2 separate regions of the Homo sapiens genome follow, and region 2 is linked to region 1. The links come from fine-mapping of genetic effects on gene expression. Tissue or cell type: whole blood. Region 1 holds a variant in brackets; the other region holds the start of a gene. All regions are shown on one strand. Distances are between the middles of the regions.

Evidence for each region. PIP is the estimated chance that this variant, and not a neighbour inherited with it, causes the effect.
Region 2: it holds the start of TRG-AS1, and the variant in region 1 is fine-mapped to the expression of TRG-AS1 in whole blood (TOPMed, PIP above 0.99).

What each region holds. Positions count from the first base shown.
Region 1 is chr7:38,365,170-38,373,357 of GRCh38, reverse strand. The region is part of intron 3 of TRG-AS1 (T cell receptor gamma locus antisense RNA 1); the gene reads right to left. It also overlaps TRG and the pseudogene TRGV1. Among named protein-coding and RNA genes, the nearest start is that of TRG-AS1, 28 kb to the right of the region's middle. RefSeq lists enhancers at 3,154-3,203, 5,188-5,277. The variant T/C (reference allele first, on the strand shown) is at 4,480.
Region 2 is chr7:38,337,943-38,346,130 of GRCh38, reverse strand. It overlaps TRG-AS1 (T cell receptor gamma locus antisense RNA 1), which reads right to left and starts at 4,710. Exons shown (of 4, transcript NR_040085.2): 1 at 4,332-4,710; 2 at 4-110. It also overlaps TRG, the pseudogene TRGV6 and the pseudogene TRGV5P.

The DNA of each region.
Region 1 (8,188 bases):
AAGAGCAGGCAGGAAGTGAAGCTTTGGCTGAGGTTTCTGGGACACACTTAACTTCCCTGGAAACGATGCCTGACACCGCCTGGCCACAGCACTGGCAGGAGATGCTGCTGTCTTCTGGGAACATGCAGCGGCCAGTGAGCAGCACAGGACACAGGAACGTAAACTGGGGACCCTTCATCCATCCACTCTGGCTTCGTATCTTCTCCATTGTCCACTCCTATTTTAGCCCGGGATGATCAGTGATGATGTGCATGAGTTACTCATTCCCATCTATGCCCCAGCCCAGACTGAGCATATACAAACCCTGTTCTTTGCAGAATTTTTCATTTTTCCTTTTAATTTTCTATGGAAAGAATATATGTTATATAATTCAGCCTTATTGACACCCTTATAATAGCCTTCTAAACTACACACCTGATCATTTATCCCATCCAAATATACATATATTTGATACAGGGTCTCACTCTGTTGCCCAGGCTGGAGTGCGGTGGCACGATCACAGCTCACTACAGACTTGACCTCCCAGACTCAAGGGATCCTCCCACCTCAGCCTCCCAAGTAGTTGGGACTACAGGCGTGTGCCATCACGTGCAGCTAAATTTTTGTATTTTTTGTGGAGACTGGGTTTCACCATGTTGCTCAGGCTGGTCTGGAACTCCTGGGCTTAACTGATCTGCCTGCCTCGGCCTCCCACAGTGCCGGGATTACAGGCATGAGCCACCGTGCCCAGCCTCATTGATACACATTAAATGCCTACTACGTTCCAGGCCTTGTGCTGTGTGCTCTTGATACTGAGGTGTGTGCCCCCTTAAGCTCATTGAAAACACTATTGACCTGCGTCACTGCGGTCACAAAGTGATACAGAGAGCCCAGACAACCATTTAGAGGTGAGGAAATTCTAATAATTCATGGTAAGCAGATTGTTTCCCATAGTGTTGCTAGGGAACATCTCACAGCAGACTGAAATAGAAATACAAGCAATTGTCTGCGCACTAGAACTTTCTCCCCAAGGCAGTGCTATTTTTTTAAACAATTCTTCTATCATCATCATCATAATGCTGACCTCTTGATATGTAAAGGTACAATTACGAGGAGAAGCAGAAGAACATTTACATCTGTGAGTTTGCACCTCTCTCCCACCATAGTGAGCAGATCACACCCTCAGGACCCCAGAAGACTGGCAAGGAGGACTTGATAGAGACAAAAGGAGAGACACAAGAGGGGACAGAGTGTTCATATGAAGAGGGAGAGGGCATGATATAGAGACAGTGACGGCAACAGAAAGTAGAAAGTTGAAGAGGGACAGAGAGCAGAGTGGAAGTGAGAAGGAAAGAAAATGACTAGGACAGTGGCCATACAAGCAAAAAGAGCAAGAGACAGAGACACGTGGAGAGGTATAGTTCTCTATCATGGCGGGGGAGAGAGAGAGAAAACAGAGAAAGAAATACAAAACACAGAGAGAGGGTGAGAGACAAAGGGACAGAGAGACAGCGAGAGAGGGAGGGAAGATGGAGAGAGAGAAAACAACAGAGAAGAGAGAGAAACTGTGATATAAATATAGCGACAGGGACAGGGACAGTGATGGAGAGAGACAGAGAAATAGGGAAAGATACAAGAAGAGAGAACTGGAGTTAGGGGGAGAGATAGGGAGAGAGAGAGAACGATAGACCTGTGGAGACAGAAGCATACACGTGGACACACAGAGTGCGGCAGTGTTAGGAAGATAGAGATAAATATACAGAAATAATGGTAAATATTGAGATAGAAAAATATATATAAAGAGAAAAAACAAAGAAATATGCATATTTATATATTGTAAAAATATACATAAATGTATTTATACATGTATAATATGTTATATATAAAATATTATATATATTTCTATACAAAAAATTAGCCGGGTGTGGTGGCGGGCACCTGTAATCCCTGCTACTCGGGAGGCTGAGGTAGGAGAATGGCATGAACCAGGGAGGTGGAGCTTGCAGTGAGCCAAGATCGCGTCACTGCACTCCAGCCTGGGCGACAGAGCGAGATTCCGTCTCAAAAAAAAAAAATTATATGTATTTCTAGCTTTCCTTTTCTCTTCATATATTCTATCTGTCTGTCTGTCTATCCATACTATTGCCACAATAACGCCATGTAGCAAATATCCCAAACTCAGTGGCTTAGCACAATAATCATCTACAAATTCTTACAAATGCGTAGGTTTGCTAGACTGTTCTGCTGATCTAAACCAAGCTCATCTGATCTTGGCTGGGCTTGGCCACATGTCAGGCAGCTGCTGGGTTAGCTGGGAGGGGGACTGCCTGGTCAAAGTGCCTGGGTCTGAATAAATCAGCTCCACTACACACAGGGTTTCATCCTCCAACAGGCTAGCCTGGATTTGTTCTAATGACAATGACAGAAAGCAAAGAGCTAGCAGAAGCACATCAGGCCACTTGAAGCCTCAATTCAGAACTGGAGCCCTATGAGTTCTTCTTGTATTTAAAAAAAAAAAAAGGCGGGGGGCATAAACGGCGCCTCTTAATCGAAGGAGCTTTGACTTATCAAGAATGAGTTCCACTTCTGGAAAATTTGCAGTGAGCCCACACTGCCTTGTCTGGCTCACAAATGCAACTATGAACCCTGAATCTGAGGACTTTGAAAAATAAATGATAGCAAGTCAACTGGAGAAGGAAATCGGAAAGTGAAGCACTATGAATTCCCAGTAAGTTTCTTATTTATTTTTCCTCAATTATCCCCTGGCCTGTACTCAGATAATCAGAGTATATGTACAAAGATAATCTGAAATGCAGAACTGTACACCAGGTGAGGACAGAGAGAAAGGGGGACTCTCTGTGGTCAGAGAGCCCTGGTTTTCTGTTTTTTGTCCTTTTCCATTCTCTCGCAGCCCCCAGGCAATCTGAGTGGCAGTGGCAGCAGCTATGGTGAGCCAGGAGCCTAAAGCTCTTAGGAAAGGGATCCTTCTCTCTGACCAGGGAAGCTGTGGCCCTGAGAGAGAATCCTGGTGGTTTTTGTTCTCTATCCTCTCACCACTTGGCCCTGGAGGGAGACACAATGGTGGGAAATGCAGTGTGCTAAAGCCACACCTGTCTGGCCAGACGACTGGAGGGGCATTTCCTGTGAACTAGAAAGTATTGCAGAGCTTGCAGAGAGAAAGAAGATTAAGCAAGAAACATCATGCAATGATGTCTGGACTCCTGGGCTCACCCACTAGCTGTGCATGCATAAACGTGACCCTAAACAGCTCCAAAGCCAAAGGCCTTGCAAACCGAAGCAGGAGTAGGCACTGCCCAGGTCCTAGAATGGCCACTGGGTGGCGCACACACAGGACAGGTCTGACAAGACAAGTACTGCAAAGGCTGGAAAACGGAACTGACTGGAACTGCCCACCAAACACCAGTAGGAAGTTGTAATCCCTAACTGCGTCAGTTGCCTGCTAACAAAAAAACCCCCTCCACATTCTGTGTAATATTTAAACAATGCCCAGAGCTCTATAACATGATATTCAAAGTGTACAGGATTTAATCCGAAATTACTCCGCATGTGGAGGACGAGGAAAATCTTAGCATCTCCAAACGGAAAAGCCAAACAACAGATGCTAATCCTGACACGACACAGGTGTTGGAATAACAAAGACTTTAAAGGAGCTATAGTGACCACAGGAAGAAATGGAAAGAGAGGAGGAGAGAAGGAGGTAGAAAGTAAATAGATAGGAGAGATACAAATAGAGAAATAGAAAAAGAGATGAATAGAGATAGGCAGATAGAGAGACAGAAACATAAAGATATGAACAGAGTAAGAAACAGGAGCACTAAAGCAAAATAGAGGAGACTGAGAGCTGTAAGAGGGAGCTATAGAAGGAAAAATGTAAAGGGAGGAACAAAAACGGGACAGAGAAAAAAGAAATATGGACATAAAGACGGAGATGGAAGGACATAGTGATAGAAAGCAATGCAGGAGATAGAGAAATAGAATAGTAGAGAGAGAAATAGAGCCAGGGCACGTGAAAGCTATAAAGCAATTCATGGTAGTTGTCTAAATTCAACATATCATTACGGTTGCATAATGCTAATATTCTCATTTTAACATTTCTCCTAAATTTATTGGTTGTAATACTTCCACAAAAGAACTTTCATTCGGCCAGGCACAGTGGCTCACACCTGTAATCCCAGCACATTGGGAGGCCGAGGTGGGTGGATCACTTGAGGTCAGGAGTTCAAGACCAGCCTGGCCCACATGGTGAAACCCCATCTCTATGAAAAATATAAAAATTAGCTAGGTGTGGTGGCGCGTGCCTGTAATCCCAGCTACTTGGGAGGCTGAGGCAGGAGAATTGCTTGAACCCCGGAGGTGGAGATTGCAGTGAGCTGAGATTGTGCCACTGCACTCCAGTCTGAGACACAGAGCGAGACTCTATCTATCTAAAGAAAAAAAAAAAGAACTTTCATTCTTAAGCTCTGTGGTATTCTAAAATGT[T/C]TGTACAGAAATGGCAAGGTAAATGCTTGATTATTTTCTTTTCTGTTTTCAGAATGAGATGGTGTCTTAGCAACCTCCAGAGGAGACTTTATTTTGCTATATTATGTTTTTCAAGAATTTGTGTAGGTGTTATTCTTTTGGTGCTTAAAATGTCCTACCGATGGTTAGTGAGAGCCACTGCCGTTGTTTTTATTTGAGTAGAGTCCAAGGCAAACCAACATGCCTGACCCTCAGTCCTGTTAATAAAGCAGGCTCAAGCCTTCTCAGAATGGCCCTGGGTGGACTTGCAAATGTGGACTTGCAAATGTGAAAAGGAAGGTGGTTCAGGGCCCTAATCAGAAGCTTCCTGGCAGGACCAGGTTCTGGCAGCTGCGTTGGCTGCTGAAACTCTGAAGTGCAGGATGTGAGCCTGCTGTGGGACTGCCCTCTCCCAAGGGCCATGACCAGCTAGCGCCAGGGTCAGCTTCCCCCACATCTGCACTCCCTCTGCTGTGGGCCTGAGCAATCCATGCCCCTGGCTCTCTCCTGAAGAGGGCCTGCTCTCAGCTGCCACAAGAGGGCGATGGAGAACGGGCCTGAGCAGAGAGGCAGGAGCTCCTCTGCAGGTCCTCCCAGGAACCACCGCTTCTGGGAGGAAGGCTTGGGAGTCCCCTAAGACACATCCTCAGTCACTTCTCCCTGCCTGTGACTCAGGAAGACCAGCTCCTCTTACTGTCTTCTGTGCTAGGGATCACTTCCTTGTTGAGTGGGGCCTGAGTTTTAAGAGGATCTTCTGCTCCTCTTCATCTGGTCCCTTTCCTTCCAAGGCCCCAGAGAGGAAGGCATGCGGTGGGCCCTAGCGGTGCTTCTAGCTTTCCTGTCTCCTGGTGAGTGCGCTGCCTACAGAGAGGATCACGGGTTTTGTTTTGTTTTGTTATTTTCTTCTTTTGCAAGGAGCGACATACTAAGAAATGCCTCATTATATTTTGTGTTGTTCCCATTGCAGCCAGTCAGATATCTTCCAACTTGGAAGGGAGAACGAAGTCAGTCACCAGGCTGACTGGGTCATCTGCTGAAATCACCTGTGATCTTCCTGGAGCAAGTACCTTATACATCCACTGGTACCTGCACCAGGAGGGGAAGGCCCCACAGTGTCTTCTGTACTATGAACCCTACTACTCCAGGGTTGTGCTGGAATCAGGAATCACTCCAGGAAAGTATGACACTGGAAGCACAAGGAGCAATTGGAATTTGAGACTGCAAAATCTAATTAAAAATGATTCTGGGTTCTATTACTGTGCCACCTGGGACAGGCACAGTGATTCAGACACTGAAAATCTGCCTGTGGTTGCTTCTGGTACACAAGATAGACCAGCCAACTCTCATTTCCTGCCCTGAATTTACTGTATTCTGTACAAAGAGAAACACAGCTTAACTCCTGATCTCCCCTGCAATATCACACTCCCCTGGCAGCAGCTGCACCCTGTTCCCCACCCTCCCCCAGGACTTTCCTGAAGACCAAGCTGCCACCTCCAAGCCTCAGCTAAGCAGCCTGGCTGAGAGCAAGTTTCTCTCAGCTCTCCTAGAACATGGGGAAGGCCCACTCACTCTGCTTCCTAGGACAGACAGGTACAGCTAGGGTCCAGCTGTGAAGCAAGACATTTTGGACAAAAATGGGAAGGGTATTCATACTGAATCATACATCCAATAATGGTCCAGAGATCGCAGCTGAGAGTGGTGCTTATTCCTTATGTCTATAACAATATAAGCAATACTATAATGACCACTAAAACACTAGGCCAATATATGCAGTTGAACATTCTCTCTCTCTGCCCTCCCTTTTATTCTCGCTCTCCTTTCTTACTTCCATGCTTGCTTTTATCATTTTCTCTCCCTCCCTCCCTTCCTCCTTTCCTTCCATCACCCCACCCTCCTTCCTTTCTTTCCTTCCTTCCTTCCTTGCTTTTCTCTCTTTCTCTCCTTTTTGTGTACATAATCACAATACTTTTTCCACAAAATCATTTGAAATAGTTTTTCTCTATTTGTTCATGCCAACATTGATATAGCTGCTTTAATTGTTCAGTTTCATTTTTATATTTTGGAAATTTGTGTATTATTTTGTTTTGTTTCATATTTGTTTTGTATACGTAAAACATTTAGTTGGAACTGAAGTCAAAATTATAAAAGATGACACATTTGAAGATTTTAGCTTCCATTGTAGACTTCTCATTCCTCTTTTCTCCCTGACACTATAGGTAACAATATTTTTATCCGTTTTCTTGAACTTTTTCACTCTGTCATAGCGCAGTATGTATCAATTCTATTTCAATGCCATATTTATATTTTTGTTCCTATATTTGGTTTTTATACATTTTAATCAATCTTATATTTTCCCGTGTCTGGATTGTGTGTCTTACTTCTAAAGGTGCACATACTTCATAAGTATGCATAAAGACGTCCATATCATTTATTTGAATGTTTTTATGTGTTGATTATTTAATGATGGCATCATTGATCTATCAGGAATTTTTATACAATAATTACTGTATTAGTAATAATAATACTGGCCAGGCCCGGTGGCTCATGCCTGTAATCCCAGCATTTGAGTAGTACAGTCGTTAGGAATACTTAGGCCGGGAGATTGCGACCAGCTTAGCCAACATGGTGAAACCCTGTCTCTACTAAAAATACAAAAAATTAGCTGGCTGTGGCGGTGCACACATGTAATCCCAGCTACTTGGATGCTGAAGCAGGAGAATCTCTTGAGCCTAGAAGGTGGAGTTTTCAGTGAGCTAATATCACACTACTGCAGTCCAGTTTGGGCAACACAGTGAGACTCTGTCTCAAAAAGACTAATAATAATAATAATATTGATGGTAAATATGGGTACTGACATTCTGGTAGTTAATGTACTAAGCACATTGCATGCATATTGTATTTAATCTACACAGAAACTTCATTAAGGATTTAAAGTACTGTTGAATGTAACATTAGAAATTGGGGGGTTAATTAACATTCCCTAAGTCATATACTTTAATTTGATAATGATTGCAATCCAAGCTCTGTGGTTCAGAAAATGAGATTTGTTAATTCGGTTTGCATTCCCCCATCGTAGGAGTACTAGCATCATTTTACAACTTTACAGTTCATTTATATTTCTTCTTTTGAGAATTGCCTTGTACACTCTTTTCCTATTCTTCTATTGGAGGATTAGTTTTTTCTTATTGGTTCGTAAGAATTAATATACACCATTTTAGAGATACTGACCCTTTATCCAATGTGTTGAAGATATTTCTCCTCATTTGTTATTATTTACATTTGGCACCTTTTGGAGAATTGAACTTTGAAAAAAACAAAATCTATCAATTTTTCTATGGTGTCTACTTTGATGTCAGGTTTAGAAAGGCCAATCTCACCTAGAATTTCTATGCAATTCATCATCATTTAAGTCTAATGATTTTCTTTTTATTACAACTAAATCACTATTTGTAACTGGTAAGGTAGAAATGCAGCAATATTTGTTTCCATATGGTAAGTCAATATCCAAAAGAGAACTTATGAAATAATTGACTATTTCCTTGTGGATATTAACATATCACTTTATCACATGATAAAATATTACATACATGCAGCTTTCTTTCTGGATTTTCCACTGTGTTCCATGAATCTTGTCATTCTAGTGCCAGTATTGCCTTCTCTTCAGCACTGTAGCTTTATAGTTCTTTTCACA
Region 2 (8,188 bases), 27 kb after region 1:
TACCTTAGAGCAGAGTCCAAGACACACCAACACACATGATCCTCAGTCCTTTTAATTTAAAGCACGTTCAACCCTTCTCAGAGTGGCCTTGAGTGGTTGCCTCCATGTGTCTGCAGATGCGAAAAGGAACTTGGTTCAGGGCCCTAATCAGAGGCTTCCTGTCAGGACAAGGTCCTGGCATCAGCATTAGCTGCTGCAACTCTGAAGGGCAGGGTAGGAGCCTGTTGTGGGACTGCCCCCTCCAAGGTCTGAGCCTGTTAATTCCAGGGTCAGCTTCCCCTAAATCTGCAGTCCCTCTGCTGGAGGCCTGAACTCTCAATGCCCCTGCCTCCCTTCTGCCCTGGGCCTGCTCTCAGCTGCCACAAGAGGGCGCCGAAGAAAGGGCCTGAGGAGACACAGGAGCTCCTCTGCAGGTCCTCCCAGGAACCACCCCTTCTGGGAGGAAGGCTTGGGAGTCCCCTAAGACACATCCTCAGTCACTTCTCTCTGCCTGTGTCTCAGGAATACCAGCTCCTCCTACTGTCTTCTGTGCTAGGGATCACTTCCTTGTTGAGTGGGACCTGAGTTTTGAGAGGATCTTCTACTCCTTTTCATCTGGTCCCTTTCCTTCCAAGGCCCCAGAAAGGAAGGCATGCGGTGAGCCCTAGCGGTGCTTCTAGCTTTCCTGTATCCTGGTGAGTGTGCTGCCTACAGAGAGGCTCACAGGTTGGGTTTTGTTTTGTTTTCTTCTTTTGAAAGGGGTGCCATACAAAGGAATACCTCATTATATTTTATGTTTTTCCCATTGCAGCCAGTCAGAAATCTTCCAACTTGGAAGGGAGAATGAAGTCAGTCACCAGGCCGACTGGGTCATCTGCTGAAATCACTTGTGACCTTACTGTAATAAATGCCGTCTACATCCACTGGTACCTACAGCAGGAGGGGAAGACCCCACAGCATCTTCTGCACTATGATGTCTCCAACTCAAGGGATGTGTTGGAATCAGGTCTCAGTCTTGGAAAGTATTATACTCATACACCGAGGAGGTGGAGCTGGAATTTGAGACTGCAAAATCTAATTGAAAATGATTCTGGGGTCTATTACTGTGCCACCTGGGGCAGGCACAGTGATTCAGATCTGCCCTACACCACACTGAACATCTGCCTTGTGGCTGCCTCTGGTACACAAGATAGAGCCGCCCCCTCTCATTTCCTGCCACCAAATTTACTGTATTCTGAACAAGAGAAAGACAGCTTAACTCCTGATCTCCCTCCTAATATCACACTGTCCTGGCAGCAGCTGCACCCTGTTCCCTACCCCTCCCCCACAACTTTCCTGAAGATCAAGCTGCCATCTCCGGGCCTCAGTTAAGCAGCCTGGCTGAGAGTAAGGTTCTCTCAGCTCTCCTAGGACATGGGGGAGGCCCACTCACTCTGCTTCCTATGACAGACAGGTACAACTAGGGTCCAGCTGCGAATCTAGATATTTTGGACAGCAAATAGGAAGGTTATTTATACTGAATCATTTATCCAGTCATGGTCCAGAGATCACAGCTGAGAGTGGTGCTTATTCCTTATGTCTATAACAATATAAGCAATAGTATAATGACCACTAAAACACTAGGCCTAGGTATGCAGTTGAACATTCTCTCCCTCTGCCCTCCCTTTTATTCTCTCTCTCTTTTTTCTTACTTCTTTGCTTGTTTTTATTTTTCTCTCCCTCCCTAACTCCCTCCCTCCATCCATCCTTTCCTCCCTTCCTCCCTTGTTTCCTTCCATCCATTCTCCTTCCTTGTTTTCCTCCTTCCTTCCTTGTTTTTCTCTCTCTTTCTTTCCTTTTTGGGTACATAATGAGAATACTTTTTCCACAAAATCATTTGAAATAATTTTTCTCTATTTGTTCATGCCAACATTTATACAGCTAGTTTAACTGTTCAGTTTTCATTTTTACATTTTGGAAATTTGTTGTATTACTTTGTTTTGTTTCAAATCTGTTTTGTATATATAAAATATTTACATGGAACTGAAGTCAAAATCATAAAAGGTGATGCATTTGAAGATTTTAGCTTCCATTGTAGATTTCTTGTTCCTCTTTTCTCCCTGACACTACAGGTAACAATATTTTTGTCAGTTCACTTGAGCTGTTTCACTCTGTTTGTCATAGCAGAGTATGTATTGTTTCTATTTCAATGCCATATTTATATTTTCATTCTGATATTTGGTTTTTATACATTTTAATAAATCTTATATTTTCCTGTGTCTGGATTGTGTGTCTTACTTCTAAAGGTGCACATACTTCATAAGTATGCATAAAGACGTCCATATCATTTATTTGAATGTTTTTATGTGTTGATTATTTAATGATGGCATCATTGATCCATCAGGAATTTTTATACAATAATTACTGTATTAATAACAATAATACTGGCCACGCCCGGTGGCTCATGCATGTAATCCCAGCATTTGGCCAGTCCAGTCATTAGGATCACTTAGGCCGGGAGATTTGGACCCGCTCAGCCAACATGGTGAAACCCTGTCTCTACTAAATATACAAAAAATTAGCCGGCTGTTGTGGCGCACACATGTAATCCCAGCTACTTTGGATGCTGAGGCAGGAGAATTTCTAGAGCCAGGAAGGTGAAGGTTTCAGTGAGCTAATATCACACTACTACAGTCCAGTTTGGGCAATAGAGTGAGACTCTGTCTCAAAAAAATGAATAATGATAATAATAATATTGATGGTACATATGGGTGCTGACATTCTGGTAGTTAATGTACTAAGCACATTGCATGCACATTTTATTTAATCTACACAGAAACTTCATTAAGGGTTTAAAGTACCGTTGAATGTAACATAAGAAATTGGGGGGTTAATTAACATTCCCTAAGTCATATACTTTAATTTAATAATGATGGCAATCCAAGCTCTGTGGTTCTGAAAATGAGATTTGTTAATTTGATTTGCATTCCCCCATCTTTAGGAGTACTAGCAATATTTGACAACGTTATAGGTCATTTATAGTTCTTCTTTTGAGAATCGCCTTGTGATACTCTTTGCCTATTCTCCTTTTGGAGGATTAATTTTTTCTTATTGGTTCGTAAGAATTAATATATACTATTTTAGAGATACTGACCCTTTATCCAATGTGTTGAAGATATTACTCCTCATGTGTTATTATTTACATTTGGCACCTATGGTGAATTGAACTTTGAAAAATAAAATAATATCTGTCCATTTTTCTAGGGTGTCTAGTTTGATGCCAGGCTTAGAAAGGCCAATCTCACCTAGAACTTCTATGCAATTCATCATCGTTTAAGTCTAATGATTTTCATTTTATTACAACTAAATCACTATTTGTAACTAGTAAGGTAGAAATGCAACAATATTTGTTTCCATACAGTAAGTCAATACCAAAAAGAGAACTTATTAAATAATTGACTATTTCCTTGTGAATATTAATATATCACTTTATCACATGATAAAATATTACATACATGCAGCTCTCTTACTGCATTTTCCACTGTGTTCCATGAATCTTCTCATTCTAGTGCCAGTATTGCCCTCTCTTCAGCACTGTAGCTTTATAGTTCTTTTCACATTCTGATGAAGTTTCTCTCATTTTTTTGTTTTAAGAATTTTCTGTGCATTCTAGTGTGATCTCAATCCTCTCCCTTCCCAGTTTTAAACCGTGAGACTTCTGTCCAGCAAGACTTTTTCACGCTCCAAGGCAGGCAAGCTTCCCTCCTTCACAGGGACCCGAGAACTCAGCTTTCAGAGCTGTTCCTGCGGAAGCCTCATGTCCTCCACGTGTGCTCCAGAGGCAGAGGGAGACCAACTGGAGCCCCTTCCCTTTCTCATTCCCAGCTGTGATGACAGCAGAAACTGCAAAATTTGAGCTAGGACAACACAACAACCAAGAGAGACATTGTTCTACATCTCATTATGCATATTTCAAACATGTGTCTCTATATACTTCTTACAGAGGTGGTGGTAATCTGTGCATGCCCTACTGAATTTTCACAATTATATTACTGTACTTGTTTTGTCCCCTTATTTCCATCTGTGAATCCAGGTGCACTGCAGATATTAGTCTGCTTTCTGAGGGTAGGGATGACAAATAAAATATACAATACCCAGGGAATTTGGAAGTTCAGATATATAACAAGTTTTTAGTTCAAGTATGTTCCAAATATTTCATGACATGGCACCCAGTACTACTTTAAAAACAAACAAGCAAACAAACAAACTTACACTCCTACTTTAATGAACAAAAATTGTCTAATAAAGAGATCACACCCACAGGATTACAGGCACCCCCCCCCCCGCCCCCCGCCACACACACACACATTTACCTTAGAGCAGAGTCCAAGGCCCACCAACACACATGATCCTCAGTCCTTTTAATAAAGAACATTCAACCCTCCTCAGAGTGGCCTTGGGCAGTTGCCTCCAAGTGTCCTTGCAGATGTGAAAAGGAAGTTGGTTCACAGCCCTAATCAGAGGCTTCCTGGCAGGACAAGGTCCTGGCATCAGCATTAGCTGCTGCAACTCTGAAGGGCAGGGTGTGAGCCTGCTGTGGGACTGCCCCCTCCTAGGGCTGGGCCTGCTGACTCCAGGGGTCAGCTTTCCCCATATCTGCACTCCCTCTGCTGGAGGCCTGAACTCTCCATGCCCCTGGCTCTCTTCTGCAGAGGGCCTGCTCTCAGCTGCCACAGAGGGTGCTGCAGAACTGGCCTGAGCAGAGAGGCAGGAGCTCCTCTGCAGGTCCTCCCAGGCACCACCCTTCTGGAAGGAAGGCGTGGGAGTCCCCTAAGACACATCCTCAGTCACTTCTCCCTGCTTGTGACTCAGGAAGACCAGCCTTCCCCACTGCCTTCTGTGCTAGGGATCACTTCCTTGTTGAGTGGGACCTGAGTTTTGAGAGGATCTTCTGCTCCTGTTCATCTGGGCCCTTTCTTTCAAGACCCCAGAGACGAAGGCATGTGGTGGGCCCTAGCCCTGCTTCTAGCTTTCCTGTCTCTTGGTAAGTGTGCTGCCTACAGAGAGGCTCACAGGTTGGGTTTTGTTTTGGATTTTTCTTCTTTAGCAAGGGACGCCATACTAAGGAATACCTCATTATATTTTATGTTGTTCCCATTGCAGCCAGTCAGATATCTACTAACTTGGAAGCGAAAATAAAGTCAGGCACCAGGCAGATGGGGTCATCTGCTGTAATCACCTGTGATCTTCCTGTAGAAAATGCCTTCTACATCCACTGGTACCTACGCCAGGAGGGGAAGGCCCCACAGCATCTTCTGTACTATGACATCTGCAACTCCAGGGATATGTTGGAATCAGGAGTCAGTCAGGAAAGCATGATACTTATGGAAGTAGAAGGATAAGCTGGAAATTTATACCTCCAAAACTAAATGAAAATGCCTCTGGGGTCTATTACTGTGCCACCTAGGACAGGCAGAGTGATTCAGACCTGCTCTACACCACACTGAATATCTGTCTTGTGGCTGCTTCTGGTACACAAGAGAGAGCCGTCCCCTCTCATTTCCTGCCCTGAATTTACTGTATTCTGTACAAAGAGAAACAGCTTAACTCCTGATCTCCCCCCTAATATTACACTCTCCTGTCAGCAGCTGTACCCTGTTCCCCACCCTCCCCCAGGACTTTCCTGAAGACTAAGCTGCCATCTCAGCTAAGCCTCAGCTAAGCAGCCTGGCTGAGAGCAAGGTTTTCTCAGCTCTCCTAGGACATGGGGGAGGCCCACTCACTCTGTTTCTTAGGGTCCAGCTGTGAAGCGAGATATTTTGGACAGCAAATGGGAAGGGTATTTATACTGAATCATGTATCCAATCATGGTCCAGAGATCGCAGCTGAGAGTGCTGCTTACTCCTTATGTCTATAACAATATAGGCAATATTATAAATACCACTAAAACACTAGGCCTAGATATGCAGTTAAACACTCTCTCCCTCTGCCCTCCCTTTTATTCTCTCTCCTTTCTTACTTCCTTGCTTGCTTTTATTATTTTTTCTTCCCTCCCTCCCTCCCTCCCTCTCTCCCTCCCTTCCTTCCTTCCTTTTTTCATTTCTTCCTTCCTTGCTTTTCTCTCTCTTTCTTTCCTTTTTGGGTACATAATCCGAATATTTTTTCAACAAAATCATTTGAAATAATTTTTCTTTACATGTTCATGCCAACATTGATATAGCTAGTTTATTTGTTCAGTTTTCATTTTAAAATTTTAGACATTTGTTGTATTATTTTGTTTTGTTTCATATTTGTTTTGCATATGTAAACTATTTACATGGAACTAAAGTCATAATTTTAACGAAGATGCATTTGGAGATTTTAACTTACATTCTAGATTTCTTTTTCTCTCTCTTTTTTTTTTTTTTTTTTTTTTGAGACGGATTCTCAGTCTGTCACTCAGGCTGGAGTGCAGTGGAGCAATCTCGGCTCACTGCAACCTCCGCCTCCTGGGTTCAAGAGATTCTCCTACCTCAGCCTCCCAAGTAGCTGGGATTTCAGGTGCCCGCCAGCACATCCAGCTAATTTTTGTATTTTTGGTAGAGACAGGGTTTCCTCATGTTGGCCTGGCTGGTCTCGAACTCCTGACCTCAGATGATCCCCCTGCCTCGGCCTCCCTAAGTGCTGGGATTACAGGCATGAGCAACCTCACCAGGCCCCATTCTGGATTTCTCTTTCCTCTTCTCTCCCTGACCCTATAGGTAACAATATTTTTATCAGTTCAGTTGAACTTTTTCACTTTTTCTTATTCAGAACAAGTCTTTCAGTATTACAGAAAAGTCTTTTGTTTGTCATAGTGCAGTATATATTGTTTCTATTTGACCGTCATATTTATATTTTCATTCTGATAAGGTTTTATACATTTTAATCAATCTTTTATCTTCCAGTGTCTAGATTTTGTGTCTTGCCTCTAAAAGTGCATACACTTCATAAGTATGAATAAAGAAGTCCATATCATTTATTTGAATGCTTTTATTCATAGACTATTTAATGATGGCATCTCTGATCTATTGGGAATTTTAATACAATAATTACCGTAGTAATAATAATATGCTAATGATAAACACGGGTACTGACATTCTGGTAGTTACTGTACTAATCACATTGCATGTAAGTTTTATTTAATCTTCACAGAAACCCCATTGAGGGGTTAAAGTACCATTGAATACACCAGATGAGAAATAAAGGGCTTAACTAACATTCCCTAAGTCATATACTTTATTCGATAGCAATTTCAATCCAAGCGCTGGGGTTCAGAAAATGAGATTTGTTAATTCAATTTGCATTTTCTTACCTGTGTGAATGCTAGCATTACTTAACAACTTTGTAGGCCATTTATACTTCTTCTTTTGTCAACTGCCATTTCATACTCTTCGCCTATTCTTCTGTTGGTTATCATTTTTTTCTTATTGGTTTGTAAGAATTAATACACCTCATTTTAGAGATATTGATCCTTTATCAAATGTATTGAAAATATTTCTCGTGGTTTGCTATTATTTTCAGCACCTTTTGGTGAACTGAACTTTGTGTACTACTTTTAATAAAACCTATCAATTTTTCTAAGGGGTCTATTTTGATGTTAGGATCAGAGAGGCAAATCTCACTTACAATATGTGTGCAATTCATCATGGTTAAAGTCTAATGATTTTCTGTTTTCAGTTTTATTACAAGAAAATCTCCATTTGTAGCTGGCAACATAGTAACTTAAGAAGATTTGTTTCTGGCCGGGTGCAGTGGCTCACGCCTGTAATCCCAGCACTTTGGGAGGCTGAGGTGGGTGAATCACGAGATCAGGAGATCCAGACTATCCGGGGTAACACGGTGAAACCCCATCTCTACTAAAAATATAAAAAATTAGCTGGGCATGTTGGCAGGTGCCTGTAGTCCCAGCTACTGAGAAGGCTGAGGCAGGAGAATGGCGTGAACCCAGGAGGCGGAGCTTGCAGTGAGCCGAGATTGTGCCACCGCACTCCAGCCTGGGGGACAGAGAGAGACTCTGTCTCAAAAAAAAAAAAAAAAAAAAATTGTTTCCATATGGTAAGTCAATTCCCAAAAGAGAACTTATTACATAATCCAGTAGTTTCTCAAGGATATTAACGTACAACTTTATCATGTGATAAAATATTACATACACATGGCTCTCTTTCTGGACTTTCCAGTGTGTTCCATGAATCTTTTCATTCTAGTGCCA